2 separate regions of the Homo sapiens genome follow, and region 1 is linked to region 2. The links come from fine-mapping of genetic effects on gene expression. A gene starts in region 2. The other region holds a variant in brackets. All regions are shown on one strand. Distances are from middle to middle.

Region 1 (9,406 bases), 110 kb before region 2:
ATGGGAGTATTTTATGTTATGTGAATTGTGTCACAATTAGAAAATTCTTTTCTTAGAAAAAAGTCGGTGGCTGGGCATGGTAGCTCATACCTGGAATCCTAGCACTTTGGGAAGCTGAATGGGGAGGATCACTTGAGCCCAGGAGTTAGAGACCAGCCTGGGCAACATTGCAAGAGCTCATCTTTCTTTTTTAAATTACTTGTAGAGATGGGATCTCACTATATTGCTCAGGCTGGTCTCAAATACTAGGCTCAAGCAATCCTTCCACCTCAGCCTCCCAGAGTATGGGGATGACAGGCATGAGCCACTGCTCAGGCCTCTCTTAGCTTTATCTCCGACACGTTGTGATATAGAGATTAATCATTTAATCGCTTAGTGGACACATTGAGATTTGTGACCAAATGACAGCAAAATGCACTGGGAACACACCTTGCTCACATTTTAGAGATCAGTGCTTTGTGTACGCCTGCCCGGCTCCACAGCACATACACTACAACTGGAGCTGTACTTCTTCATGGGATGTTTTTATCTCTCGTGGGCCTGTGTTGGATCATCAGGACACAAAGTTCTGTCCACAGAGGAGTAAGTAGCATCTTCTTTAAACTGTGTCCCACTTTGGGTTTCTTTATTTCTTTTTTTTTTTTTTTTGAGACAGTGTCTCGCTCTGTCACCCGGGCTGGAGTGCAATGGTGAGATCTCGGCTCGTTGGAACCTCCACCTGGGTTCAAGCTATTCTTCTGTCTCAGACTCCCGAGTAGCTGCGATTACAGGCATCTGCCACCACCCCCAACTCATTTTTGTATTTTTAGCAGACATGGGGTTTCATCATGTTGGCCAGGCTGGTCTCGAACCCCTGACCTCAGGTGATCCGCTCACCTCAGCCTCCCAGAGTGCTGGGATTACAGGTGTGAGCCACCACACCCGGCCCCTACTTTGGGCTTCTGATTTATCCCTCAGTGAACAAGCATCCCAGTCCATTTTTTGGGTCTGATCTCCTTGGCTGTGCTCCCCCTAATTTTTTAAAATTGTGGTGGAATACTTTTTTTTTTTTTTTTTGAGATGGAGTCTTGCTCTGTCACCCAGGCTGGAGTGCAGTGGCACCATCTCGGCTCACTGCAAGCTCTGCCTCCTGGGTTCACGCCATTCTCCTGCCTCAGCCTCCTGAGTAGTTGGAACTACAGGCGCCCGCCACCACGCCCAGGTAATTTTTGTAGTTTTTGGTAGAGACGGAGTTTCACTGTGTTAGCCAGGATGGTCCCGATCTCCTGACCTCGTGATCTGCCCTCCTCGGCCTCCCAAAGTGCTGGGATTACAGGCGTGAGTCACTGCACCTGGCCTTCTGTCTTTTTAAGACTGAATAATAGGTGCGGTGGCTGATGCCTGTAATCATAGCACTTTGGGAGGCCGAGGTGGGTGGATCACTCAAGGTTAGGAGTTCGAGACCAGACTGCTCAACATGGTGAAACCCTGTCTCTACTAAAAATACAAAATTAGCTGGGGGTGGTAGAGCACACCTCTAATTCCAGCTATTTGGGAGGCCAAAGCAGGAGAATCGCTTGAACCCAGTAGGTGGAGGTTGCAGTGAGCCAAGATCACACCACTGCACTCCAGCCTGGGCAACAGAACGAGACTCCGTCTCCAAAAAAAAAAAAAAAGATTGACCAATATTTGTTAGTGTGGAGCAGCTGCATTGGGTGTTTCCCTCATCTGTGGGTGGACACTTGGGTGGTTTCCACCTCTAGGCAATTGTGAATAGAGCTGCTGTGAACGTGGGCGTAAAAATCTCTTCAGACCCTGCTTTCAGCTCTTTCGCATGTGCCTGGCAGTGGAGTTGCTGATGACCTGGTGGTTGTGTGTTTCATCTTTTGTGGAACTGCTGGCAGCGGAGTTTCTGATGACGTGGTGGTTGTGTGTTTCATCTTTTGAGGAACCGCTGGCAGTGGAGTTGCTGATGACCTGGTGGTTGTGTGTTTCATCTTTTGAGGAACCGCTGGCAGCGGAGTTTCTGATGACCTGGTGGTTGTATGTTTCATCTTTTGAGGAACCGCTGGCAGCGGAGTTGCTGATGACCTGGTGGTTGTGTGTTTCATCTTTTGCGGAGCCGCTGGCAGTGGAGTTGCTGATGACCTGGTGGTTGTATGTTTCATGTTTTGAGGAGCCGCCAAGCTGTCTTCCACAGTGGCTGTGCCATTTTACTTTCCCACCAGTGGTGTGGGGGCTTCCAGTTTCTCCACGTCCTCACCATTACTCTGTTCTCTGTTTTTTTTTGATAGTAGCCATTTCAGTGGGTAGGAGGTAATATCTTACTGGGTTTTGATCTGCCTTTCCTGAAGATGGGTGGTGGGGTGTCTTTTTTCATGTGCTTAATAGGTCATTTGTGTATCTTCTTGGAGAAATGTCTTTTGCTCAGTTTTGAATCCTTGCAAAACTGTGTTTAAAGCAGCAGGTCTGAGTGTCATCTGTGAACCCCTGGGAGTCCTTGAGACCCTTTCAGGGGACCCTGAGGTCAAAACTATATTTATTTATTTTTCTTTTTCTTTCATTTTATTTTACTTTTGTGAGATACAGTCTCCCTCTGTTGCCCAGGCTGGAGTGCAATGGCGTGATCTCAGCTCACTTGCAACCTCCACCTCCCGGGTTCAAACGATTCTCCTGCCTCAGCCTCCCGAGTAGCTGAGATTACAGGCGCATGCCACCATGCCTGGCTAATTTTTGTATTTTAGTAGTGGCTAAATTTTGTGTTTCAGTTGGTCAGGCTGGTCTCGAACTCCTGACCTCAAATGATCCGACCGCCTTGGCCTCCCAAATCGAAACTATATTTATAATAACAGTAAGGCTGAGCCAGGCATTCACCATGCACTGGCATTTCGAATGCCACTTTACTTCATGTCTGTGCTGTAGTAGTAAGAACTGTAATTTAATTAAATCTTACACTTGTGTACAGATGTATTATTTATTTTTATTATTCGTAAGTTCTTTTTAAAAAACTTTATTAAAGTAATATTTATGTGCCATGAAATTGACCCATTTTAAGTGTACAGTTCCATGATTATATAAGCATATCCCTATGATAAAGTTTAATTTATAAGTTACGCACAGTAAGAGATTAACAACAATAGCCAATCATAAAATAGAGCAATTGTAATAAAAATGTGAATGTGATCTCTCAAAAGAGCTCACTTTACTGCACTCAGCCACTCAGCCATCTGATGACGTGGGATGAAATATGCTCGCATGATGACACGGAGGCCCTGCCACTTAGCATTGGGCCCCCCTTGACCTCCTGCCAATGCGTCAGAAGGAAGGTCACCTGCCCCCAGTGATCCTGGGTCACTGAGCCACAGTGAGCACAGCACCGCCGTACCCCCAACGGTTGTTGGCCAAGAGGGCTGCTAAGTGACTAGTGGGCAGTTAGCGTCGTGGACAGCTTGCATCTGCTGGACAAAGGGATGATTCGTGTCCCAGGTGGGGCAGAGGAGGTCGGCACAAGATTTCATCACGCTGCTCAGCACAGAACATCATTTAAAACTTAGGAATTATTTTTGGAATTTTCGATTTAGTATTTTCAGACGCAGGTAACTGAAACTGTGGAAAGCCAGAAAGCAGAGCTTCTGTGTGTGTCTCAGTACTCAGCGTGGTGGAGTGGCAGCGTGGGTAGAGCCCCTGCCGGCACCCAAGTCCAGCGGCCTCAAGGGGCAGCACGTGCAAGGCTGGAGCTGCGGCTGACCCTGTGCGCTCTCCGTGGAGCACACATTGATGAGAAAGACTGGCAGACATGCCAGGGAATGCAGATCCGGGTCCTGGCAGGAACAAAGTGAGCCTGTGGCTTCAAGGAGAACAACGGACAGTGTTAGCAGTATTAAAATTGGAGCTTTCAGTTGAAAATTGGACTTTTGTGTGCTCACCAGCTTCTCAGTGTGTCAGGACTTTCTCAGGTGACCATTGCAGGATGTCACAGAATCATGCCTGGGTAAAAGACCCATTCAAAGTTCAAGATAGACCAATGGATTTCAGAAGAACCAAGTTGGAAAAGTGTGGTGATAGGGTTCAATTGCAGCTCGCTGTAAGGAGCCTTCCCTTGCTGAGTGCGGTGTCAGGGAGAAGCTCTGAGCACACTGAAAAGGCTTTTAGATGCCCCTCCCTCTCTAGCTGCATCTCTTCCTGGGGCTGTAATGTCCTCTCCTGCTTGAGCCACAGCGGCCCTTCATGGTCGATCGCATGCAGATGGGAGGCCAGGGGTTTTCCAGGGTCAGCATTCAAGAGATTCGCAAAAAGGCAAAGAATGCTATTCCTCTCACCAAATATTTTAAAAACAGTTTCATAAATATTTGTTACTATATATTGGATATCTTGTTATTGTTAAATAATGAGATATCTTTAAGTGTCTCTTAATTTCTAATATCGTACGTATCAATAGAAATGACACATATAAACCAAGTAAACACAGGGAATTGATATTTACTGTATTCAAAATCAGAAGAGACATTTAAAGATACTTCATGTGTGGGCTGTGCTGGAGCATGAGCTGAGCCTCAGTTCCTGCCACCTCTGTGTTTAGTTTCCGGATTTTCCATGTTTCCTATCTGTTTCCTGTCTGTTTCCCTGATCCAGTTTGGGTTGGTTGCTACTGAGCATGCAGGTTCCCTTTCTGTAGTTACATTGTTTAGTGAAAAAAAGCAAGGTTCAGCACAGAGCATAATATATATGCTCAGGTAAAAGGGGGCAATGATTGATGGATGGAGCCCCAGTATATTGATAACTGCCTCTGGGAATGGCCCTGGAGGCATGGGATAGGTGGTCAACTTCACAGTGTACCTTTTAGAGTGGGTGGGTATTTTTTATTTACAAGTATTTCATTTGATTATGAAATATTTCATATATATAAAATAATACAGTGTTTACACAAGCGTAAAGATTAATAAGAGAATAAAACAGTTGGCTGGGCGTGGTGGTTCATGCCTGTAATCCCAGCACTTTGGGAGGCCGAGGCGGGCGGATCACCTGAGGTCGCAAGCTCAAGACTAGCCTGACCAACATGGAGAAACCTCGTTTCTACTAAAAATACAAAATTAGCCAGGCGTGGTGGTGCATGCCTGTAATTCCAGCTACTCGGGAGGCTGAGGCAGGAGAATCACTTGAACCTGGGAGGCGGAGGTTGCAGTGAGCTGAGATTGTGCCATTGCACTCCAGCCTGGGCAACAAGAACAAAACTCCATCTCAAAAAAACAAAAACAAAACAAAAGAAAAACCAGTTGCTGCTGTGCCGACATTCCAGTTAAGAAAAAGACCATCATCCTGTCTTGAAGCCAGAAATAGTACTTAGACATTTCAGCAGTGGAGGGGCCGCCTCCGCCCCGCTCCAGCGGCCTCTGTCCCTCCTTGTCCTCTTCTGGCCTGAGGCCATGTCTGTGTACACAGTATCCGCAGAACTATCTTTATACTGTTAGAATCACAATCCACATAAATTTTGGGTTTGAAGTCCCATTTGTAAACCAGAAGATCTTTATTGTTGCTTCTATTTTCTGGATAATTTCTTTCTTTCTT[T/TC]TTTTTTTTTTTTTTTTTAACAAATTGCTTTTTAAATTATGAAAGTAAGGCTGGGGACGGTAGCTGACACCTGTAATCCCAGCTCTTTGGGAGGCCGAGGTGGGCGGATCACCTGACTTCAGGAGTTTGAGACCAGCCTGGCTAACATGGCGAAACCCTGTCACTACTAAAAATACAAAAATTAGCCGGGCTTGGTGGTGCACACCTGTAATCCCAGCTACTCGGGAGGCTGAGGCAGGAGAGTTGCTTGAACTGTGAGGCAGAGGTTGCAATGAGCCTAGGTCGCTCCACTGCACTCCAGCCTGGGCAACAGAGCGAGACTCCATCTCAAAAAAAAAAAAATTAAAAAAAGGAAAGAAAGTAATATGGGCTGGCAGAAGGCAAGAAAATAAAATCTAAAGCCCCTTCCCACATTCCCGACAGTTGGGTGTGTTCCTACACAGATAAAAGTTCACATTTTAAAAAGATAGATGGGACAATGGTGTTCTTTCTGCCTGACGTCTGCTGGAAGTGTGTCCCAGCTAGACGTGCAGACCAACTGTGCTGCTTTCCAGAGCCATCTTCCCCTTTACTCTGGCCAGGGGCAGGACAGCGCTCAGCACCCCCGGGCAGGTGGCTCCCGAGAGCTGAACACTGTCACCCACTAGTGTCTGGTCTCTAGTGGCAGCCCCACGCTCGCCTTCTCAGCTTGCTCTTTGGCGCTCACTGGTTTGTTCTCTTCTGCCTTGTTCCTCTTTTCTCCCCATGCCAATATCAGTGAGAAAGGATCTTTTTTGATAGTAGGTTCGTAGGTGATGTCCTAAAAATTTTCATAAATACAGAAAAGAACGATAACATTTAGCCACCACCCAGATACATATTTTAGATGAAAAAGAAGTACAGAGGCCGAGTGTGGTGGTTCACGCCTGTAATCCCAGCACTTTGGGAGGCCGAGGCTGGCAGATCACAAGGTCAGGAGTTCGAGACCAGCCTGACCAAGTTGGTGAAGTCCCGTCTCTACTAAAAATACAAAAATTAGCCTGGCATGGTGGTACCCGCCTGTAATCCCAGCTACTCAGGAGGCTGAGGCAGGAGAATCACTGACACCCAGGAGGTGGAGGTTGCAGTGAGCCGAGATTGCATCATTGCACTCCAGCCTGGGACTGTCTCACTCAGTCAGAGTGAGACTCCATCTGAAAAAAAAAGGAAAAGGAGTACAGAAAAGCTGTGGTTTCTATTGTCAGCACTTTTCTGTACTTGGACATTTTTTACAATGAGCTTTTGTTACTTGTTTAGTTACACACGTGATTTTGAATACTGCATGAGTATTTTCAGAGGCAAACCATGAAGAGCTCTGTAGTGTGTTGAGTCTCAGATGGATGACTGCATAGTCAGTTTTTCTTTAAATCTCTCTGAGGCTCTGGATTTTTGAACCCCCTATAGAATAACATTTCCCAACCTCTTTTGTTTTTTGTTGTTGTTTTTGAGAGAGACTCGCTCTGTTGCCCAGGCTGGAGTGCAGTGGCACGATCTCGGCTCACTGCAAGCTCCACCTCCTGGGTTCACGCCATTCTCCTGCTTCAGCCTCCCAAGTAGCTGGGACTACAGGCACCTGCCACCACGTCCGGCTAATTTTTTGTATTTTTTAGTAGAGACGGGGTTTCACCATGTTAGCCAGGATGGTCTTGATCTCTTGACGTCGTGAGCCACCACGCCTGGCCTCCCAACTTCGTTTGACTTATGTGTGATCTCTGAAATGCTTTTAGAAATTTTAAAAATTACTTGTCATTTTTGCATTTCCAGAGAAGCAGTTTTAAGTTTTCTTTCGTGTTTAATTTGGATCGATATTGTTATTATGTTGTATTGAGTTGGTTTTAATGCAGGCTTAAGTGTTCCTGATGTTTAAGGTTAAAATTTTAAATGATTTAAAATCTAACTGCATGTTAACCCATTGAAAAAAATTTTTAAACCGCTTAGATACTATATGCCATATTTGGTTTTAAACAATGTGTACACATTATCTATTCCCAAAAAAGTACATTTTAAAAAAGTGATTCACTCAGTAATTGAGTTAGACACTTAGATGTCTTATATTCTACACTTGAAAGTCGAGGTCTCCTTTACTAACCCGGATATTCTGTTGAAGATGAAGGTTTGTGATTGTTATTTATGAGCAAAGTGTAAAAGCCCGTTTCAGTTCCAGAAATATCTTGAAATGCCCTGTGAGAGTTTTCTCTGTGAGAGAAATGCAGACGTACAGAGGTGGCCAAGGGGACCCTGAGCACACCTGCAGGCTTCTGATCATTGTTAATGCTTCTCATTGATGTCTGTTTCGGCACAAATACAATTAACATCCAGTTGTACCTAGATGAGCCTGGGCCAGGGCTGGAAGCAAAGCTCTGGGGCTTTTCTGGTTTAAGGGGAAAATTAATACTCAGACAGTTGATACGCGTGAACTCTCCACAAAGTGACTTTGTGGTCACTCTGACCGAGGTGCCTGGCAGCCTCTGGGGAACTGCCGTGCCTGGGCAGGTGCAGCTGTCTGGCTCAGCCTCTCCAGGCTCATCCCGCCCACCTCCCCGTTCAGTTCCCACTACTGTGTGGCTCGCCATCAGGCCTGGGTAAACATGGCCTCTGCCCCCTCCCACCCCCCACCCCAGCAGCTGCCCTTGTGCAATTAGGCTCTTGTGGACCCTTTCTGATCTCACTTTTGTTTCCATAGGGAACTGTACCTGGGGAATGAATTGTAGGTTTATACACCCTGGAGTGAACGACAAGGGGAACTACTCCCTAATCACCAAAGCCGACCCCTTCCCGCCTAATGGTGCCCCGCCTCTCGGACCTCACCCGCTGATGCCCGCCAACCCTTGGGTGCGTGATGCCTCTTCTTTCATTGTTAGCACATCAGCCAACTGAGCTGTGTCTGAATCTCAAGCTTAAGACAAGTCACTGTGCCTTAGCACAGGCTCAGTGCCCCCTTTCGGCTGCTTCTGTCGTCCCGAGTGGAAGCAGGCCTCGGCTTTCCGAGGACGGAGTGAGGCTTGGTGGAAGGAGAGCGGCCACACACGGCCGGCTTGTGTTGTAGTTGATGTTTTTACTGTCTGGTTTCTCTGTACACTTGAAAGTTTTACTTTCTCACCTTCTCCCTTCTCGTTTTTCAATAGGGTGGGCCGGTAGTTGATGAAATTTTGCCTCCACCCCCTCCAGAGCCCCCAACAGAGAGTGCCTGGGAACGAGGACTCCGGCATGCAAAGGAGGTAAACACAATTCAGCAGAAATCCCGACAAGAAAGATGCTATTACAGGAGTGGTTCTTGACAAAACTGGGATTTCCTCGGTCCAGAGAGAGCCCCAGAAATCTCTGAAGTTAGGCGTCTGTTTCTGTGGTGTCTTTCTTTATTTTTTATTTATTTATTTTTTTGGAGACAGAGTTTCACTCTTGTTGCCCAGGCTGGAGTGCAATGGCCCAAACTCGACTCACTGCAGCCTCCGCCTCCCAGGTTCATGTGATTCTCCTGCTCGGCCTCCCAAGTAGCTGGGATTACAGGCATGCGCCACCAGGCCCGGAAGGATGGAGAGTTATATCTAACTGTCTCAGGCAGCAGCCCAGTAGGCCAGGGAGTTCAGTCCAGGGCATACCCACTGTCTTCATGGGGCTGGATCAGCACTGGGCCACACCCCAGCTGGCACTGCCCAGGAGCACAGGGTGCAGTCTCCAGCCACTCACAGAAAGCCTGGCGAGGCTGCCCGAGCCGCACCCCCAGGATCTGCACCCCACACTCCTGAGACTCAGTGTCTGCTCTTCCTGGAGAAAACTTGGAGCTTTCTGGTCCTATCACTGCACACTTCCTCCCTCTAGGCCCACGTTGGCCCCAGTGTGTGAG
Region 2 (9,018 bases):
TCTGGAGTGGGAAGAATCTTCTAGAATTGCATCGATTGTTGCATAATTGCAAACACACTGGAAACGACTGGATGGTGCACCTCCTGAGTGAACCCTGAGCTGCCAGAGACCAGGCCGGGGCTCGGCTGCACAGCACGGCCACGGGCTGAGGGGAAGGAAAAGGGTCCCAGGCAGAGCTTGGGAAGAGAGGAAAGGTGCCCAGAAGGTTGGCTGGGAGGAAGACAGCCTCGTCCTCCCCGGAAGGACTCAGGAAAGACACAAGAGGGAACCCAGCCCGACTGGCAGGGCGGCTGGGCCCGAGGAGCAGGAGGCAGAACGAGGCACCCACAGGGTGGGTGCTCTATCGGCCTAGTTTCCAGTGACTGCCAGCCTGGTGTTCAGAGAGCCAGCAGCCGGGAGTAGTGCCCGCTTCCCCCACAGGAAGTTCCTGTCTGCGCCCACCCAGGGGCTGGTGCTGAGCAGCTTCTCAGCTGAAGGAAGTGGCTGAGGGCGATGGGTGTGGGGGCGTCGACAGCCTTACAAAGGGAGGGGCGATCGCGCACTGGCCCTCCCAGCAGGCACCCGGGACTGCCAATGTGTCTCCCACACTGGCCGCTGCACAAGCTGAGAAGCTGGGACGGCCCGTGCCTCAGGGATCTGCCTGGCTGGCAGGCCAGCACCCTCAGCAAGCCCCACAGCTGTCCTGCACGAGTGGAGGCTGCTCACACAGCCCTTCCAGGCAGGTTCGTGATCACGCGTGTCCTGGCCCACAGGCTTCTGGTTACAGAGGTGGCTCACTGCTCAGACTGTCCCCTGGCTGAGAACAGCTCCTGCTGGGCCCCCAGGGGGCCTCCTGCGCGAGGGCTAGAGCAGGGTGCATGCCCCCACACTGGGATACTCTTGCCATGAGAGATCTACCCTGGAGGAGGAAGTTGCTCTGGTTGGGGAGCTTGCGGAGGGGACAGAACCAGACCAGCAACAAACTTCCGAAGGGAACCTGAAGAGCCTTTAAACTTTCTGTGGTCATTTGCATGCATGCCTTAGCAACACCAACAAGAAACAAAGTTAGAAGCAGAGAGAGAACAGCCAGAAAACAAAAGCCAGCAGGAAAAGTCGGGGAGAAAAATCTTTGAAAGGCAAAGGCTGTGTGAAAAGCTCTTGCAGGACCCGCGGTGAGACTAGGATGGTCGTCATTCTACCAAGAAAAGCATGGCAGAGGGGAGTTTTATAGGAAAGATGCTCCACAATTCCATGTGGTTCTGCATTCTGTGTTATGGAAACTACATTTTAGGAAAAGACATATTTGAAAAAGAAGGGCAAAGACCAATTTGTGCAGGTTAGGAAAGTGGAGATGCTGTGGCCGACCACACGGTGAAGGTGTTGGCACCCAAAGCCTACGGGAGGCTTTTCTAAAACAAGGCCTAAGTCAAGCCTCACAGCGCTCAGTAACAGATGAGAAGGTGCGGAACACACCTTCAAACACCCGCTACCTGCTCACAAGAAGGAAGTCCTGCCAGGCGCGGTGGCTCACGCCTGTCATCCCAGCACTTTGGGAGGCTGAGACGGGCAGGTCACCGGAGGTCAGGAGTTCGAGACCAGCCTGGCCAACATGGTGAAACCCCTTGTCTACTAAAAATACAGCAATTAGCCGGGCGTGGTGGCGGGTGCCTGTAATCCCAGCTACTCTGGAGGCTGAGGCAGGAGGATCACTTGAACCCAGGAGATGGAGGTTGCGGTGAGCCGAGATGGCGCCACTGCACTCCAGGCTGGGTGACAAGAGCAAGACTCTGTCTCAAAAAAAAATATTCCCGTTCAGAGGCTGCCCCCCCAAAATGTCACGGCTAAGTGAGATGGAGGAGCAGGGGCAGAGCCTGTAGCAGCCTCACAAGAGAAGTAGGTAGAGCTGTCCCAGCGTGGGCAGGCGCCTGTGCTGCCTGACACAGGTAATGAAGGCAGCTCTGCATCCTGACACTGGCCCTGCCACCTCCGTGGGTGACCAGCACACATCCACCTAGCAGTCCCAGCTCCCTCTGTACCAGGAGCCCCTGAAGTCAGCTGACTTTGCTTGCAAAATGTTCTAGAGCCTCCTACCAGTCTGGGTGCACCCCCCTCCACTCCACCACCTCAGCAGCTTGGATGTCTGCGGGGAAGCCCTCCTGCTCTCTCTCTCCCCTGCCACTGCTGATTTTGCTCAAGAGCTGTATTATTCAGCACTTAGGAGGGAGCAGACACTGATCTAGGCTTCCTCCCAACGGGGCTGGCAGCTCCAGAATACTTGAGCACAGCTCCCCGCCAGGAGAGCCACGTCCTCCAGTTTCTGTTCCTGAAACACCCTGGAGGAGCCGGCTGTGAGCCCTGGTGCAGCTGGAAACCCCAGCAAGGTGGTCAGTGTCTGCTCCTCTGTGGACCAGCCTGCCTGGCTACTCAGTGATCGGTGTGACTCAAGTTCTCCTTCAAACAAAACTAAGAACATCAGACTCCAAACAAGCCCCTCTAAACTTTAGGGAACTCCTTTCCTCTGTAGTCAAAACAGGCAGACAGCGGGTCCGAACAAGAGTTGATAGCAAAAACTACAAGTTATTTATTTACAACTGCCCATTCCAGCCGCACAAGCCCAAATCCACCACCACTGGCGGAGCGGTGGCACCTGCTGCCCTCTGAGTACCGGAGCGCCCGCCGCAGCCGCCGGGGACCCCGAGCTTGGGCAGGGCCGCAGGTCGCCCGGTGAACCGAAGCAGCAGTCGGACCGGGCGCCTGCGGCTGGCGCGAAGGAGGCTGGGCGGGGGATGAACGCGCCCAGAGGGCAGAGGCGGCGCGGCACAGGGAAACCCGGACCCCACGCGCCCCGAGGCCCCGGCGCCCCGAGTCCCCGCGCGCCCAGTCCGGAGCTGCACCGGGGCGGCCGCCGGCCTCGCGACCCCTCCCGCGGCGGGGCACGGCCCCCTCCCCGCGGCCCCTGGGCGGGCGCGCTCACGTGTGGCCGCAGCTGCCGATGGCCACGGGCCGGTGATAGACCTCCAGGCAGATGGGGCAGGTGTACTGCGCCTCCAGGCCGCTGTCGCCGCCCGCCGGCCCGGCCGGCGGCTGCCGCTGCTGAGCCGAGGCCACCAGGCTGCGGAACATAGCCATCCCGGGGCCAGGCCCGCGCCGCCCGCCGCCCGCTGTCCTGGCCCGGGCCGGCCCGCTAGTCACAGCCGCTACTGCGCCGCGCTGACGTCATCGTAGGGCGCCGCCCCCAGCCGGGCTTCGCGGCCGTCACGGCGCCACTCCGACGTCATCGGGGCGCGCCCTCGCGCTGTCGCCGCCACAGTCTGCGACGGGACCCGGCGTGCCCATGTGTCAGGTGGGCGAGGACTACGGGGAGCCGGCGCCTGAGGAGCCGCCCCCGGCGCCGCGGCCCAGGTAAGAGCTGGCGGCCGGACCCGCCAGGCCGCCCCTCGCCTTCCCGCCGCACTCCTGCCCCGAAGGGTCCCGGCCGGGCTTGCTCCGGGAAGCCCCGCGTGGAGAGCGGGACCTCGCTCCCTAGCACTCGGGGAATGCCTGTCAAGCGGTGACGGCCACCTAGAAGGGGACTTACTCCACTGGCTCGCGCCTCTCATCCTAGCAGCCACTGGGGACGGCTCTGCCGCTGACAGTGCTGTCCTTATTCGGAGAGAACTGGTGCCGTGAAGCTGTCTCGCCTCCCCGTGTCAGCCTTGGGAGACTGAAAAGCGGCCTTTATGTGCCCCCTGAGCCGGCTTTTCTAGGCTAAACATCCCCCCAGAGCCTTTGTTTTTCTTGAAGTTTGGACAGAACACAAGCCTGGGTTTGTGTGTGTACCGAGGTGCCTTTCTCTGACCCAACTCAGGGTGAGAAACAGGAGCTGTCTCCCCAAAGCCCACTAGGCGTGGGGAAGATGTGATCTGTGTTTCTCTCTTCTCCCCCCTCCCATCTCCAAAGCCGTGAGCAGAAGTGTGTGAAGTGCAAGGAAGCGCAGCCCGTTGTGGTGATACGAGCCGGAGATGCCTTCTGCAGGTGAGGCCTGGAGGTGGCTGAGACCCTGGCAAACATGGCCTCGCTAGCAGACAGGATAGCCGCAACTTGTGATGCTTTGTTAATTCTTTTTAAAAACATGTACTTACTTTATTCCTGCTCCTGATGGGGTCCCTCGTGCCCCTGGTGTTGAAGTGGAGGCGAAAGCATTGGTTTCCTGCTTGGGAAAGTTTCCCATGAGCTAGCCACAGATCCCCTGATGAGGTTTCTGATGGAACTTATGGGGACAGTTGGAAGTGGGGCCGTGGTGTCTAGACTGGGATAAGCTGTAGGAGGACCAGGCGTTTGGGGGCAGCTGGAATACATCTAGGGGCGGATCAGAGCATCTTGGGAACTTGGCAGATGGTCTGGGTGAAAGTTTTTAATCTCGTGTGAGATGCTTGTTTCATCTGTGGCAGGATAGAGGCTTGGAAGACCTCTAGCTTTCCCCCAGGCGCTTGTCATGTCTTTCTTGGCTTGTAGCCATTGTATTGTTCAGTTGTTTCCACTAGACTCATAGCTCCCTGAAGGGAGGACCAGGTCTCTCTCCTTTTAGCCCTCTTAATTCCCAGTGGTGGTGCGTGGTTTTTTTGTTGTTGTTGTTGTTTTTTTTGAGATGGAGTCTCCCTCTGTCACCCAGGCTGGAGTGCAACAGCTGGAGTGCATGATCCCAGCTCACTGCAACCTTTACCTCCTGGGTTCAAGTGATTCTCCTGCCTCAGCCTCCTGAGTAGCTGGGATTACAGGTGCCTGCCATCATGCCCGGCCAATTGTTTTTGTATTTTTAGTAGAGACAGGGTTTCACCATGTTGGCCAGGCTGGTTTCGAACTCCTGACCTCAAGTGATCCACCTGCCTCGGCCTCCCAAAGTGCTGGGATTACAGGCATGAGCCACCACACCTGGCCAAGATAGGTACTTCTTTAACCACCCAGGAGCATCTGAAATTGCCAAGAACACCAGGCTGCCGGCAGAATTCACTGAGGAGAGGCTGCTGTGGCTGTATGCTAGGCCCTTGTGGCCAGAAGGGCTTTTGCTGTGCTTGCTGGTCCCAAGGAACAGTGGGGAGCCGGCTCTCTAGGGGAAGGCCTTAGGAATCTACATCGAGCTGGGATCCCCAGGGATCATTCAGGTCAGCACGTGGGAGAAACCTTGGCCTTCCCTGACCCACAGGGGACAGCGTGGTTTCAGGAGCCCAGACGCAGCATGTACACGTGGACCCACCACGCTTGAATCCCAGCTGGTGGTGTAGGGCGCAGAGGCTCTCCTGGTCCACAGTGCGGAGGTGAAGCCCAGCACCTGTGTCTCCTTGTATGAGACTCCCCACGCCCAAAGCTGGGTCCTGGGGGTCACTTCCCATGTCCCAGCCTTGATACTTGCCAGTTACCTGCAGTCCCTCACCTGGCATCTTGCTGTTAAACACAGACTTGCTTTACTGTCTGTAAAGGAACCACAGGGGGGTCATTCGGCCTCTTGTACGTGGTATCCATTCAACGTAGGGAGGGACTGCTGTGCACATCAAGTGTGTCTGACAGGAAGGAAGAGACTTAGAGCCCCAGGTGCAGGGTGACTCTTGCAGTGGCATTGTCCGCTCTGTACCGGGTGCTGCTCTTCACCCTGCCTGCCAGGATTGCAGGAGAGCTTTAAAATGCAGACTCCTAGGCCTCACCCCTAGACAATTTGACTTAATTGGTTTGTGCAATTCTAACATACAGCCAGGGCCAAGAACCCCTGACGTAGTGAGCCAGAGTCAGATGGCTGGAAAGTTTATTATGAACAAAGATTACAGCTGGGCGCAGTGGCTCATACCTGGAATCTCAGCACTCTGGGAGGCCCAGGCAGGAGGGTCACTTAAGGCCAGGAGTTTGAGACCAGTCTGGGCAACAAAGTGAGACCTTGTCTCTACAAAAAATACAACAATTAGCTAGGCATGGTGGCATATATCTGTAACCTGTAGTCCTATCTACCTGGGTGGCTGAGGCAGAAGGATCACATGAATCGAGGAGTTTGAGGCTGCAGTGAGCTATAACTGTGGCACTGCACTCCAACCTGGGTGACACATCGAGACCCTGTCTCTTAAAAATGCAGTTCCCAGGCCTGGAAGTTCTGATTCTGTGGGGTTAGGGGAGGAGCCCAGGCCACTCTGTGAGTGAGCCTCTTAGCCATTCCTGGCCCAGTTGAGCCCAGCACACTAAAGATGCCAGCTCTGGGGCCCCAGGATACTGAGCCCTCGCTGTGGCCCACCCCATTTCCGCACTTCACCCCAAAGAGGTGGTGTCTCTGCATGGTGGGTCCTCGCTGTGGCCCGCTCCATTTCCACGTTTCACCTCCAAGAGGTGGTGTCTGTATGTGGTGGGTCTTTTTTTATGGGGTCTGGGTTGGCCTTGCCCTGTACGTGCCTAAGTCTGTCCACTCCACCAGCTGGGCCCTTCTGAGCGCCTGTGGGGAGGGGTGCCGGGGCTCTGCCCTCGTTTGCTGGATGCAGCCTCCGTGGCTGTGCAGTTTGTACCTGGTCGTGGGAGGGGCCGGTGAGCCTCGTGTTCACCCTGAGGAAGCCACTGCCAGAGGGGCCAACCCCGCCCCTTTCACCAGTCTCTGGACAGAGCCTGGATGTGAAGATGCTGCTTTTAAAGATGGAGATTGGCAAAGGACGTCGTCACCTGGCAGCGCCTCAGGACGCTGCTCACTGTGCGGGTAGCAGGCGGTTCCCTCATCTCAGGTCTGTGTTGCAGGGACTGTTTCAAGGCCTTCTACGTCCACAAGTTCAGAGCCATGCTGGGCAAGAACCGGCTCATCTTTCCAGGCGAGAAGGTAGCGTCTGGGTCCTGGGGGTCTGACTGAGCAGCCTGGCCCCTCGAGGTCCCTGCTTGTCCCTCCCACAGGCAGCCTGGCCTGCTGCAGCCCGCCAGCTCCTCCTTGGCCTTTGAGGACAGACTCGATGTCCTAGATGTCCACGAGGTGGGGTGTCTGCCTGTGTTGGAGGTGCGGTGCCCTGAGTGATGTTTTTTCTCCCCCAGGTGCTCTTGGCGTGGTCTGGGGGGCCTTCGTCCAGCTCCATGGTCTGGCAGGTTCTTGAGGTGCGTGTTCACCACCCCGTGGGCCCGGGCTGCTGGGCTGAGCTTCAGGCTGGGGGCCTCCCTTCTCAGCCTGCTGAGGGGCTCTTGGTTGGGGCTAGAGAGCAGTCCACCCTGCGGCCTGGACACTTGGGGGGTTCTCAGATGTGTTCACAACAGGTGCACCAATCAGGAGCTGAGTCCACAGTGTGTGTGTGCGGCCCACTCTCAGATGTGTTTACAGCAGGTGCACAAATCAGAAGCTGGGTCCACAGCGCGTGTGTGCGGCCCACTCTCAGATGTGTTTACAGCAGGTGCACAAATCAGAAGCTGGGTCCACAGTGCGTGTGTGCGGCCCACTCTCAGATGTGTTTACAGCAGGTGCACCAATCAGAAGCTGGGTCCAGAGTGCGTGTGTGCGGCCCACTTGACTTCTGTCCATTTGCTCAACCTGCGTAGAAACACAGTCAGTGGAAAGCTGCATCTTGGCTCAGCCATGTGTGACCCGAGGGAAGATTGGGAAAGGGGCGGGGGTTTGCCAGGAGAAGCAAAGGGAGCAGCGTTTGAGGTGGAGGCGGCGGCCCGCGCAGGGAGGTGGAGGCGGGCTTAGGCTGCACACAGGGCTCGGCTGGGGGTGGTGGGGCTGTGCCCGTGGCCTGTCAAGGGTCAGCTCAGGAAGTCTGAGGCAGGTCGGGCTTCTCAGGAGGGCACAGGAGCGGGATGTGCTTGGTTTCTCTGCACTCTCATGAGAGGTGCAGACCGGAGGAGGCTGTTTCTGTGGGCTGGGTGGTTGAGAGGAGAGGGGTCGGCTTTGCCGGGTTGAGGAGTGGGGTGTTGGTCTCAGGATGGGCGCATGGCACAACACTGCTGAAATTAGTTTTCTGTTTTCTGAGGTCCCCTGAACCTGCCAGGAGGGTGTTGTGAGGGAACTGGCCCAGCCCTCTGTGTAACGCTGGTGCTGCCCTTCCTGTGCCCAGCGGCGCCCCTGCCTCTTGCAGGCTGTTGGTTTCTGCTTGTGAGAGCAAGTGCTTCCTTAGTGGTCAGAAGCGTGTGGGATGGTGGCACAGTGGCCCCGTAACCCAGCCCCCTCTCCTGGGGCGTTGTTGGGACATCCAGGACCAGCTGGTGAGGGGCATGTTTTACCAGGGGGATGAAGACCCCCAGGCTACCCTTTAAAATAAGTCGGGCGTGCGGCCTCGCCTACTGGGCCTGCCCGGCACCTGAGTCTGAATGGCTTTGTCCAATAAACGCAATGGCAGGGGAAGACCACTTCACCTTCCAAGATGGCATTAAATCCAGATGAAGAATGTTCTGAGCTGGAAAAGTGTCCTGTGGCTTATGGCTGGGGGCTGAGTCCCTGCTGCTTCTCCCTCTAGGGCCTGAGCCAAGATTCTGCCAAAAGACTGCGCTTTGTGGCAGGAGTCATCTTTGTTGACGGTATGTGGGGCCATTGCTCCTCCTAGTCCCTGGCCACTTGGGGTAAGCCCTGCGGATCCTCCCTCTGGTGTGGACCCTCCCTCTGGTGCCGGTCCTCCCTCTGGTAGGATGTGTTGAGCTACTGGTGCTGCCCCTGCACTGAGGGCCTGGTGGGGACATCTCCCTGAAGGAGGCAGCAGATGTATCCATCGTTAGGTGGCATCACTGTTCCTGGAATCTAAGAACATCCTTAGAAAGTCGGGGGTGGGAGCAGGAGTGGCGGCTGCCCAGCCCCCATCACGGGGTCTGGGGACAAAGAAGGGCAAGTTAAGTGCTGATGGTGAGCGGGGGCCCAGGGGCCGACTCCCCGACCCTTGCTCCTGCAGAACGAACTCCTGGGGTGTTGACTGTAGCGCTGAGGTCAGCCGCAAGAGAGAAACCCCTGCCCAAAGGAAAATGGCCGACACCCCACAGCTCCGCCAGGAAGCACCGCCCTGCGGAGCGAGGCCTCGAAGGGTTTTCCCAGGTGGAGGTGGCCCTGCAGCCTGCCCTGCCTGGCTC

Alleles and levels. Alleles are on the strand shown, and positions count from the first base shown. SD is a standard deviation of normalised expression in the study named.
For the expression in fetal neocortex of the gene that starts at base 3,286 in region 2, allele T in region 1 goes with a lower level than allele TC (large effect, 1.7 SD a copy in Walker 2019).

What was found. PIP is the estimated chance that this variant, and not a neighbour inherited with it, causes the effect.
Region 1: its variant is fine-mapped to the expression of CTU2 in fetal neocortex (Walker 2019, PIP 0.95).

What each region holds. Positions count from the first base shown.
Region 1 is chr16:88,589,933-88,599,338 of GRCh38, forward strand. ZC3H18 (zinc finger CCCH-type containing 18) reads left to right here. Exons shown (of 18, transcript NM_144604.4): 4 at 8,246-8,394; 5 at 8,688-8,780. Among named protein-coding and RNA genes, the nearest start is that of ZC3H18, 24 kb to the left of the region's middle. RefSeq lists an enhancer at 1,779-2,028. The variant T/TC (reference allele first, on the strand shown) is at 5,545.
Region 2 is chr16:88,703,218-88,712,235 of GRCh38, forward strand. CTU2 (cytosolic thiouridylase subunit 2) reads left to right here and starts at 3,286. Exons shown (of 15, transcript NM_001012759.3): 1 at 3,286-3,381; 2 at 3,919-3,993; 3 at 6,721-6,799; 4 at 7,006-7,065; 5 at 8,418-8,478. The coding sequence starts at 3,314. It overlaps RNF166 (ring finger protein 166), which reads right to left and starts at 3,191. Exons shown (of 6, transcript NM_178841.4): 1 at 2,954-3,191. The coding sequence starts at 3,108. RefSeq lists an enhancer at 2,666-3,303 and silencers at 2,925-3,204, 3,245-3,554.